2 separate regions of the Homo sapiens genome follow, and region 2 is linked to region 1. Evidence: fine-mapped expression QTL. A gene starts in region 1. The other region holds a variant in brackets. All regions are shown on one strand. Distances are from middle to middle.

What was found. PIP is the estimated chance that this variant, and not a neighbour inherited with it, causes the effect. A credible set is the group of variants that fine-mapping cannot tell apart.
Region 2: its variant is the best candidate, but not a certain one, in a credible set for the expression of STARD8 in whole blood (TOPMed, PIP 0.59).

What each region holds. Positions count from the first base shown.
Region 1 is chrX:68,645,412-68,649,798 of GRCh38, forward strand. It overlaps STARD8 (StAR related lipid transfer domain containing 8), which reads left to right and starts at 2,255. Exons shown (of 15, transcript NM_001142503.3): 1 at 2,255-2,516. The coding sequence starts at 2,472. It also overlaps the pseudogene COX6CP12.
Region 2 is chrX:68,682,633-68,687,019 of GRCh38, forward strand. The region is part of intron 2 of STARD8 (StAR related lipid transfer domain containing 8); the gene reads left to right. Among named protein-coding and RNA genes, the nearest start is that of STARD8, 37 kb to the left of the region's middle. The variant G/A (reference allele first, on the strand shown) is at 1,919.

The DNA.
Region 1 (4,387 bases):
TCTTCCTTGGTTTGGTCAGAGCAAACATAGAGAGCTGCAACCCTCAGGGAAGCAACAAATGCTCCAATAATATGAAACCCATGTGTCTGAGGTTTCATCAAAGCACTGGAAGCCATGGTAGTTATTATCCTTGATAGGTATGTCAACCTCAACACCAATATCCTTCCTGGCTGATGGAGAATGAGCCACAAATAACATATATTGAGAACGTACTTTATGCCAGACACTATACTACATGCTTTAATTCATTCTGTTTAAACCTCCCAAAGGAAGTAGGTACTATTATTATTCCCCATTTTACGGATGGGCACACTAAGGCAGTAACAGGCCCAAGGTCACCAGTTAAAGAGTAACAGAACTAGTATTGAATCCAGGCAGTCAACTTCCGAGTTCATGGCTTAAAACCACCTCAAGACAAAACTGGTGTGAGAGACCCAGAATTGAAACTGAAGTCTCCTGGTTTCTTAGCTTAATGTGGTGTGCTGCGCACTAATGCCTCCTGAATGAATGCCCAAAGGCACGGCTGACACATCTCCTCCCAGGGGCTGGAATGGAAAGAAGGAGGTGAACTCCAGAGAGTGAAAGACTATGAGGCCATCCTAGGAGGGCAGGCAGCTTTTCCTGTAATAGTTGCTTCCCAGTTCTCCATCCTCAGGTCTCTGGCTGCAGGGCAGGAGGGCATATGCTCAAAGGAGAAAACTCTCTCTGGGCTCTGACTCCTCGTGTTATTCCTCCCCCACATGCAGAGGGCTTCCCCTTATAAGCCTGTGCTCAGCTGGACGTGGGTTGGAAGCCACTTACCTTGGCTCTTGCTGACCATCTTCCCGACACAGCCCAACAGAACTCACATCTGAGACACCCCTGAGGTCGGAGCTAGAGAGAGGGTGAGGTCAGTGATTGCAGCCTCCTTGGTACAAACGAGGAAACTGAGGGTCACAGAGTAAGTTGTAAACAGAGCTGGGGGGACCCTCACAGAGCCTCTGGACAAACCTCCGGACAAAGCCACTGATGAAGAAAGTCCCCGAAGGCAGGTAGAGGCTTGCTTAAAGCAACCTAGGACCTTCCAGGGTCCCAGGACCTGGCTGTTTGCCTGACTAGCTTGGGTCTCTGAAACAGAAGTGAGGCCAGGGAGAGTTAGTTATTCTGGGCCTCATGATGACATGTGCCTCCAGAGACCCAAGCCTGGCCTTTTGCCATGGGGTCCCTGGGAGCCTTCTGGCTACCAGCCATGGCACCCTGCCTTCTGATGTCTGGGGAGGGGCTGAGAGAGGGGGAGGGTCACTGCTTCTTAATGGCTTTCTGCCCAGAAAGCCTCTAGAACTGCCTGCTGCTGACTTTCTTTCCTTTCAGGGCATCCAGAGGGTTCAAGTTTAGATTTCAGGCTAAACTTCTGGGCTTAGAGGGTCCTGAGCATGGGACTGGATAAAGGAGGGAAGCCATCATCTCTTCAGAAGATGTTCAGAAAAGGGCATACACCCAGTCTATCTGAGCTGGGAGAGAGCTGCTGTTATGCCCTGGGGCAGGGGGATGGATGAAATGGCATTTGAGGGCTCAGATTCTCTTTGGGGCAAGACCTGACTTCCTATGGACTCCCAGGAGCAGCAGGGGAGTTCTGAGAGGAACTGTGATTGTCCAGAGTGGAGTTTCTTTGAGACTTGCCCTGTACCTAACCCCAAACAGATTTGATACTTAGAGACCTCTAACCCGGCATCTCATTGTACAGCTGGGAAAACTGAGACCCAGGAGGAAGGGGCCTCTCCGAGATGCCACAGTGAGTCAAGAGTCCTCACTTCAGAGGGCTGGAGAATAATCTACTGAGGCAGGGCCAGGGCACCTGTCTGAGAGGGGCTTCTAAGGCTGCAAGCTTTTCCCCTTCCGTGGACTGCATTCACACCTTGTTCGGTCCTGCTGGGGCCGGGGCTCTCCTTCCTTGCCCCTTTTCCTTGGCACTCTTTCCACAGGCCCTGTGTGGTCTGGGCTCTACCGAGAGGTCCCCAAGGAGAGCTGGCGTGTCAGTCAGCCAAGAAGCAAGCAGGCAGGCAATGCCAGCATGCAGGTGGCGGGGCTGGCAGGGGAGCCGGCAGGAGGGCCGGACACCCGGAGCCGGGGAACTGTAATGTTCAGGGAATTTCAATTGGCATTGCTGTCCCGTTCCAGCCAACTGGCTAACGGTGCCGAGTTTGAATCAGTGACCCGCCTCCTGGTCCCTCCTCCTTAGCCGGCCTCTCTCCCTCCCTCCTTTTTTCCCTCCCTCGGTGGCCTTCCAGGAGGCGGGAGGCGCCCGCTGTCGAGGCAGCTGAGCCCCGGCAACCGCTGCTCTCCGCCTCTCCCCTCGCGGGGCCGGCTCATGGAGCGCAGGGACCGGGCTGGCTCTCGCCGAGCCCCGGGCCTCTTTTAGCCTCGTCCCCAGAGAGGGAGGAGCCGGTGCCCGGCACAGCCCCGCCGGCCCTAGAAGCTCCCCACGCGCCACCATGCCTCTGCTGGACGTTTTCTGGTCTTGCTTCAGGAAGGTGAAGGTAAGTGACTGGCCAGCCCCAGCCCATCCCGCTGCTCAGGGGGGAAGGAGGCAGATGTGGACCACTGCGCACCAGCTGGGAAAACGGACCAGACGGGCTTCTGAGACTACCTGAGGCTCTCGGAGTTAGAAAGGCTTGGGTTCAAGTCTCACCTTTGTCACTTAACCAGTTCTGTGACCTTCTGTTGCATTCCCATACAAACAAGTCTGCTAGTTGGCTCTTTTTAATAAAACTCGCCTCTGTTGCTTCCTGGATCTTGCCACAAAGGCAAGATACTTAACCTCTCTGAACCTCAGTTTCCTCTCAGCTTTAGAATGAGGACCATAGTAACACCAACCTTACGGGGTGATGAGGTTGGTGTTATTGTTTACATAGCAAATGTATGCAAATCCAGGAGATAATGTGTGTAAGCTTCCTAGCAGGATGCCTGGTGTGGAGCATCCACACAAACAATGGTATCTATTATTATTATTATTATTAATTTCTATCCATATATATAAAAGCACATACTCTGTGCTAGGCACCACTGGAGCTACACAAAGACAAAAAAGGGCTGGACACAGTGGCTCACGTCTGTAATCCCAGCATTCTGGGAGGCCGAGGTGGGAGGATCACTTGAGGCCAGGGGTTCAAGACCAGCTTAGGCAACATAAGGAGACCCCCATCTCCATTTTTTAAAAGAAGACAAAGAAGGACATGGCTTTTGTCCTCAAAGAGAATATAAGAAAAGTGACAAATATTTACCAGGCACCTACTATATGCCAGACATTGTGCTAAATAGTCAGTTTGTCAGTAAATATTTGTTGAGTGTCTACTATATCCTGGCCATGGGGGATACATGAGCACAGCCGAACCCACAAGTGTGTGTAAAGCATGATTCCACTCTCAAGAACCAAGAAACTAATATTTATTTAGTATCCACTATGTACCAGACCTAGGCACTTTTAATTCATTCATGTGGCAGTGATCCTCAGCACAACCCATTGTTTTCCTGCTTTTATAGATAGGGAAAAGACACTGTGAATAGTTAAGAAATATTTACAAGGTTGCTCAGATATGACTGGCAGAGCTGGGATCTGAGCTCCTAAGTCCATGCCTTTCTTGACGCTGTGTGGTTTCCCACAGTCCAACCCAGTAGGAAGACTTTCAAACGACTAGCCTGACTGTAAGACAGGATGAAAGAATGCTGGGACCTTTGGGAAGGAAAGATCCATTCCACCGGGAGGGACTTGGAGAGGTTTCACAGGAGGTCACATTTGGGCTGAGCCTGAGGCTTAAAGGAAGAGAAGAGTTTGTCAGTCCAAAAGTGGGGGAAGGGCATTCCAGGCATGCCTGGCAGAGGGAACTTCGTGAGCTAGAGTTTGGAGGCAGTCAAATGGTAGTGGGCTGGGGGAAAGGCTTCTTTCGTGATGTGGCTCAAATGTAGGGTTAGAGAGGATAGGAGCTTGAGAAAGGGAAGCAGAGACTACTTCCCAAAGGGTTTGGAATTAATCTGTGGATTCATGGTCCTCATCTAGTAGGGGTCCTGAATGAGATTTTTCAACCATCTGTGGTGGAATGAGAGAAAAGTAGGGATAATGTCGTGCAGTGTTCATAAAACTAAATTAATTCAACTCAAAGGACTATTCTTTATTTGGAGACTGTTGTGTCCTTCCTGTGGGGGTGGGGATTCAAATGATCTTTCTCCTACAAAATATGAGTGAGAAATTTTTTAAATGTCTGCCCTCAGCAAAATTACAAAGTTTGCGACATGCTGATTGTTTCCCTATTTATTTATTTAAGAACACTTTCCTCATCCATGAAATCTGAAAGTCTGGTGACTACTGTTTTGGGGAATAAGGGGCTGATTTCAGCATAATAGGGATATAATT
Region 2 (4,387 bases), 37 kb after region 1:
CTACAGGGTTTCTGTAAGGACTTTATGAGTTAAAATGTGCAAAGAGCTGAGGATAGAGTCAGGCACATTGAAAGCACCATATAAATGTTTGTGAAATAAGTAAAGGAAATAAGGATGAGCATTCTTGTGAGAGAGAAGTGCACATGTAACACATTTGGTGGGTTAAGGAGGTGTGTTCTGGGAATGCCACCTGCGTTAACTGGGCAGTCTTGTGGGTGCTTTGAATGCCAGTCTTAGAAGTGTGGACTTGTCCCTGTAGGTGATGGGCAACCATTTCTAAAGCTAGATCTTTGCCACAGAGTGTGGCAGAGGACTCCTGTGTGAAATGCTAGTGCTGTATCCACCAGCTCAACAGGTGCTAGGCCCAAGAGACTGCCACCAGCCAGGAAACAGTCAGTTGCCAAATCTGAACGCTGGACCAGCCCTGTGCATGGCTCAGCCCCAGGATTAGCATCGATATAGGGAAAGGGGCAGCAGGGAGCCCCCTTGTCACTGCCCTCAAGGAGCTGATCTTCTAATTGGAATAAGGCCTGCTTCTGCCAATAATCAAATCAATCATCCTGGTGGGAAGTGGTGGAGGTAGGTAGGTAAGAGAAACTCCATGTGGCCTGAGAGGCAGTATGTACAGTGGTTACTAGCTAAAGCTGACAGTCCAAACTGTATGACCTTGGGCAAATTATTTAACCTCTCTATGCTACAGTTTTCCCATTGAAAATGGTAGCAATAATAATTCAGCTTATCATAGAGTTATATATGATGATTAAATCATATATAGAAAGTGCTTAGAATGCTGGCTCACATGACAAACACTCCATAAACCTTAGCTATTCTCAGTGACTAAGGGCCTATCTTTTACTGAACCAGGTGCCTGCTACCCCTGGGGTACAAGGCCATGGCCTGGAGGCATATGAAGGTATTAGACCGGTATGTCTCCTCTTCCTGGAGTGTACATTTTCCTCAAAGGCTTAAGGAAGGAAAAGATGAATTTTAATAAGAAAACAAGGATGCATACTAGAGTTAACTGAAAATTCAAGTGGATGTTTAAGATAAAAGCTGGACTTCAAAGACATTCCCACTTGGAGCCAACACTTCAGGTTTACATCATCAGCCCCCCAAGGTTTCATCACATTCTTCCCTCTCAGCCCTTAGGGGTACTTGAATACAAAAGTTACAGTAAAACAAACACTTGTGAATTCAAGTAACTCTCAAGGGGGTCCAATCATTCTCTGGGGGTAAGGATGATTACCACCGTTATATATGGGTGAAGATGGAGGCTCGAGGTCCCAATCCTGCCACTGCCACTTATGAGCAATTTGGATTACCTTTGCTGCTTCTGAGTTTCTCCAACTGTAAACTGGGGTAATGATGATGATATATATACTTCAGAGCATTGTGGTAAGAATTAAATAAGCACTTAGAACAATGTCTGGTATAGCTTGTGCTCAATCCACATCAGCTTTTATTAGATCCATTCTTGCATCTCCTCTCACAGCACCATTGTCAGCTATGTGTCATATTATGTCCATTATCTGGAGGAGAAACTTGAAGCTGTGGAGGTTCAGTAAGGTGCCCCCTCTCCTCCTCTTTGCTAACAGCAGGCATTCCTGCCTGGAGTGGGGAGGTGGTGGGAATAAATAACCTCGAAGGTCCTTCCCAGCAACAGGGCTCTGTGACTCAAGTGAATCTTCGGAGCTCTTTCATATCACTGTTCTGGCTGGAGCTGAAGCAGCAGAACTCAGGAAATAGGGGTGGGACTGGACAGGGCGGGAGATGCCTTAGCAGGGTGGGAAGTGACTGCTGCCGCCCTTCCTTCTAGGCCGCTGCCACTGCCGGGGGCTATGTCCCACACTCCCGCCCAACCGGAGAGCAAAAGGGAAACTCCTCTGCTTGGAGGAAGCTGACTGAGGCCTCCTTTTCC[G/A]CGGGCGGCGTGGGGGAGGGGGCTGCCCCTGTGAGAGGCGCAGTGCAGGGACTACTCGAAACTCAGGAGTCAACGGGGTGGCAGCAGAAAGCTGGGCCCAGAGAGGGGCATCCCAGTGGCTGTTTGTCCTGCCTGGGCTAGTCCAGAATGGGGACTGCTGATAGGCCAGAGGGTGCTGGGAGAGACGGGCTTCCCATTGATTTATGGTCATTTGAAGGGAAAAGGAAAATAATTCCATGAAGTAGAAATGGCCTAGTGGAAGGAGGAGCAGAGTCAGATCTGCCTTGGTTCTGAAACAAACTCACTGTGTGACCTTGGACAAGTCCTCTTCCCCACATGAAGAATGCATTCATTCAGTTAGTAAATATTTTGTGAACACCTGCTATGTGCCACCATTGCCCTGGGGAAAAGGGATGCATGGCATGAAGATCAACATGTTAACCTCTAATTTCCTTCTAGCTCTGACACTGAGTTCATGAAAAGTGGGTGCAAATATCATGCAAATAAGCACATATCAACTGGAAACTGCACTTCCTTTTTCTAGCTTATCCCTCACAAATGGAGTAGCTTAGCTCTAGATTCCAGGAACAAGGTATGGAGACAGTAGGGGGGAGGGGCTGTGACCTTCACCCATGTACCCCTTTATCGTTCACAAAGCACATTCATTATTCCCATCGTGTCATAGGAATATTACCCTCATTTTACAGATGAGGAAACTGAGTCTCAGAGAGGAGAAATCACCCAGGTTATGCCACAGTTAGAGCAGAGGCCCTATTAGGATGTTGGTCCCTTTACTGGCCACCAACAGAAGTAGAATGGAAATGACCTGGTCTGAGAGCTGTTGGTAACTTTTGGCCTTATCTCCATTGAAAACAAATTTAACCAGGACCCCCCACCATCCCCAAGTCAGGTAATGCAAGTTTGCTTGCGGTGGTGGGGATTGCGTATTAGAAAAAACGGTTATGTACCTTAGAGTCCTAGTCCAGGCTTTTTTTGTGGTACACGCCAGGGGCTAAACTCTTTGAAAATAAAAGCTAATCTTTCTTAATGAAGTCTATACTCCGTGCCAGGCACCATGATCAGTCCTTCAGATCCTTACAACAGTCCTGCAACATAGAGATAACTGCCCCGGCCTAGATGATGGCCAAGTCATTTGCATTCTTGGGCCTCAGTTTTCCATCTGTAACATAAGGGAGTCTATAAGGACTGATTCCACTTCAGGATATTCTGGTACTAGAAAGATTTCAAAGTGTCGTTGGTGGAACCCAGCTGGTCGGTTGCTCAGGCCAGCCAGTCAGAGAATGTGGTTGCAGGGAGGAGTGAAAAGCAGGGGGCGGTAAAGGGAGGCCGAGGAGTGAGTCAGTCTGTCAAGATGGCCAGAGCCATTGTTTCCTTCTCCATCTGGCTGTTGCACAAGGCCTTCCTCCATGTCACATGGTTGGTGAGATTTGGGGGCAGACAGGAGGTGGAGGGGCTGACCCCATAACTAGGAAGACACCCCCACTATCTTGCACCGAGGTATGAGAACAGAAAGGAGAGGAATCAGTGGAGGGAAAACTCGCAGATGGGGGCCAAGTTGGAAAAGTCTGGAAAGAAGGTGACTCCAACCTGGAAGAAGGCTTCCTATGGTGATGGGGAGGCGGAATAGTTGAGTAGATGACTGGAGGCTAGAGAAGGGGGAGTTCCTGCTCAAGGTGGGGGCGTGGAACTTTCTAATTGCGACTGAGGGGGCGGGGAAACACAGCCATCATCCGCTCAGCCCCTCCCTCCCCGGGCTCCCCGCGGATTCGCTCAGTCCCGGGGCAAAACTACCCGAGGCGCCAGCACTCCGGCTCGCCAGCTCGCTCTTGGGCTGCTTAGCCGCCTGGCACCGCGCGGCGCCCGCGGACACATGGCCCAGGCGCGGGGCTGGGGTCCGGCGTTGCGGTTCCCGAAGCCACGGACGTGGACTCCGTGGGGTGTGGAGGGCACCCGGTGGTACGCGCCGCGCTGGGATCCAGGTGAACTGAGAGCCAGGCAGCCCCAGGCGGGGAGGTCAGGGCTGAGCTGCGCTTCGCGGAGAGCTTCCCGCACCGGCTCTTCGAAGCTCCCTGCTCCCTCTGCCTCCTTGTTTGGTTCCAGCCCGGTTTTCATCGTTGAGTCCTATGTCCATTTGTCTAAAACCTCACCCCTGGCCGGCAGTGCCCCCTTTTGAGGCTTTCCACCCCGCACGCCTTCTTTCTTCTAATTCTTAGGCAGCTCTTGCCCCGCCCTATGGGTGCCCCATCCTCTTATCCCAGCAGTCTATCCGGCTTCGTCCCCACCCACCTCTGTCTACATCCTCCGCTCAAAAAGAACACCACTTTGGTTACTAACACGTGGTAGGCGTTCAGTAAACAGTATGTCCCTTTACACCCATTCCTCCAGCACCTTCTTCGTCTCTGCCTTTGGTGTCTGCTTGTTCACCCTCCTGTCTTCCTGTCCCACTAT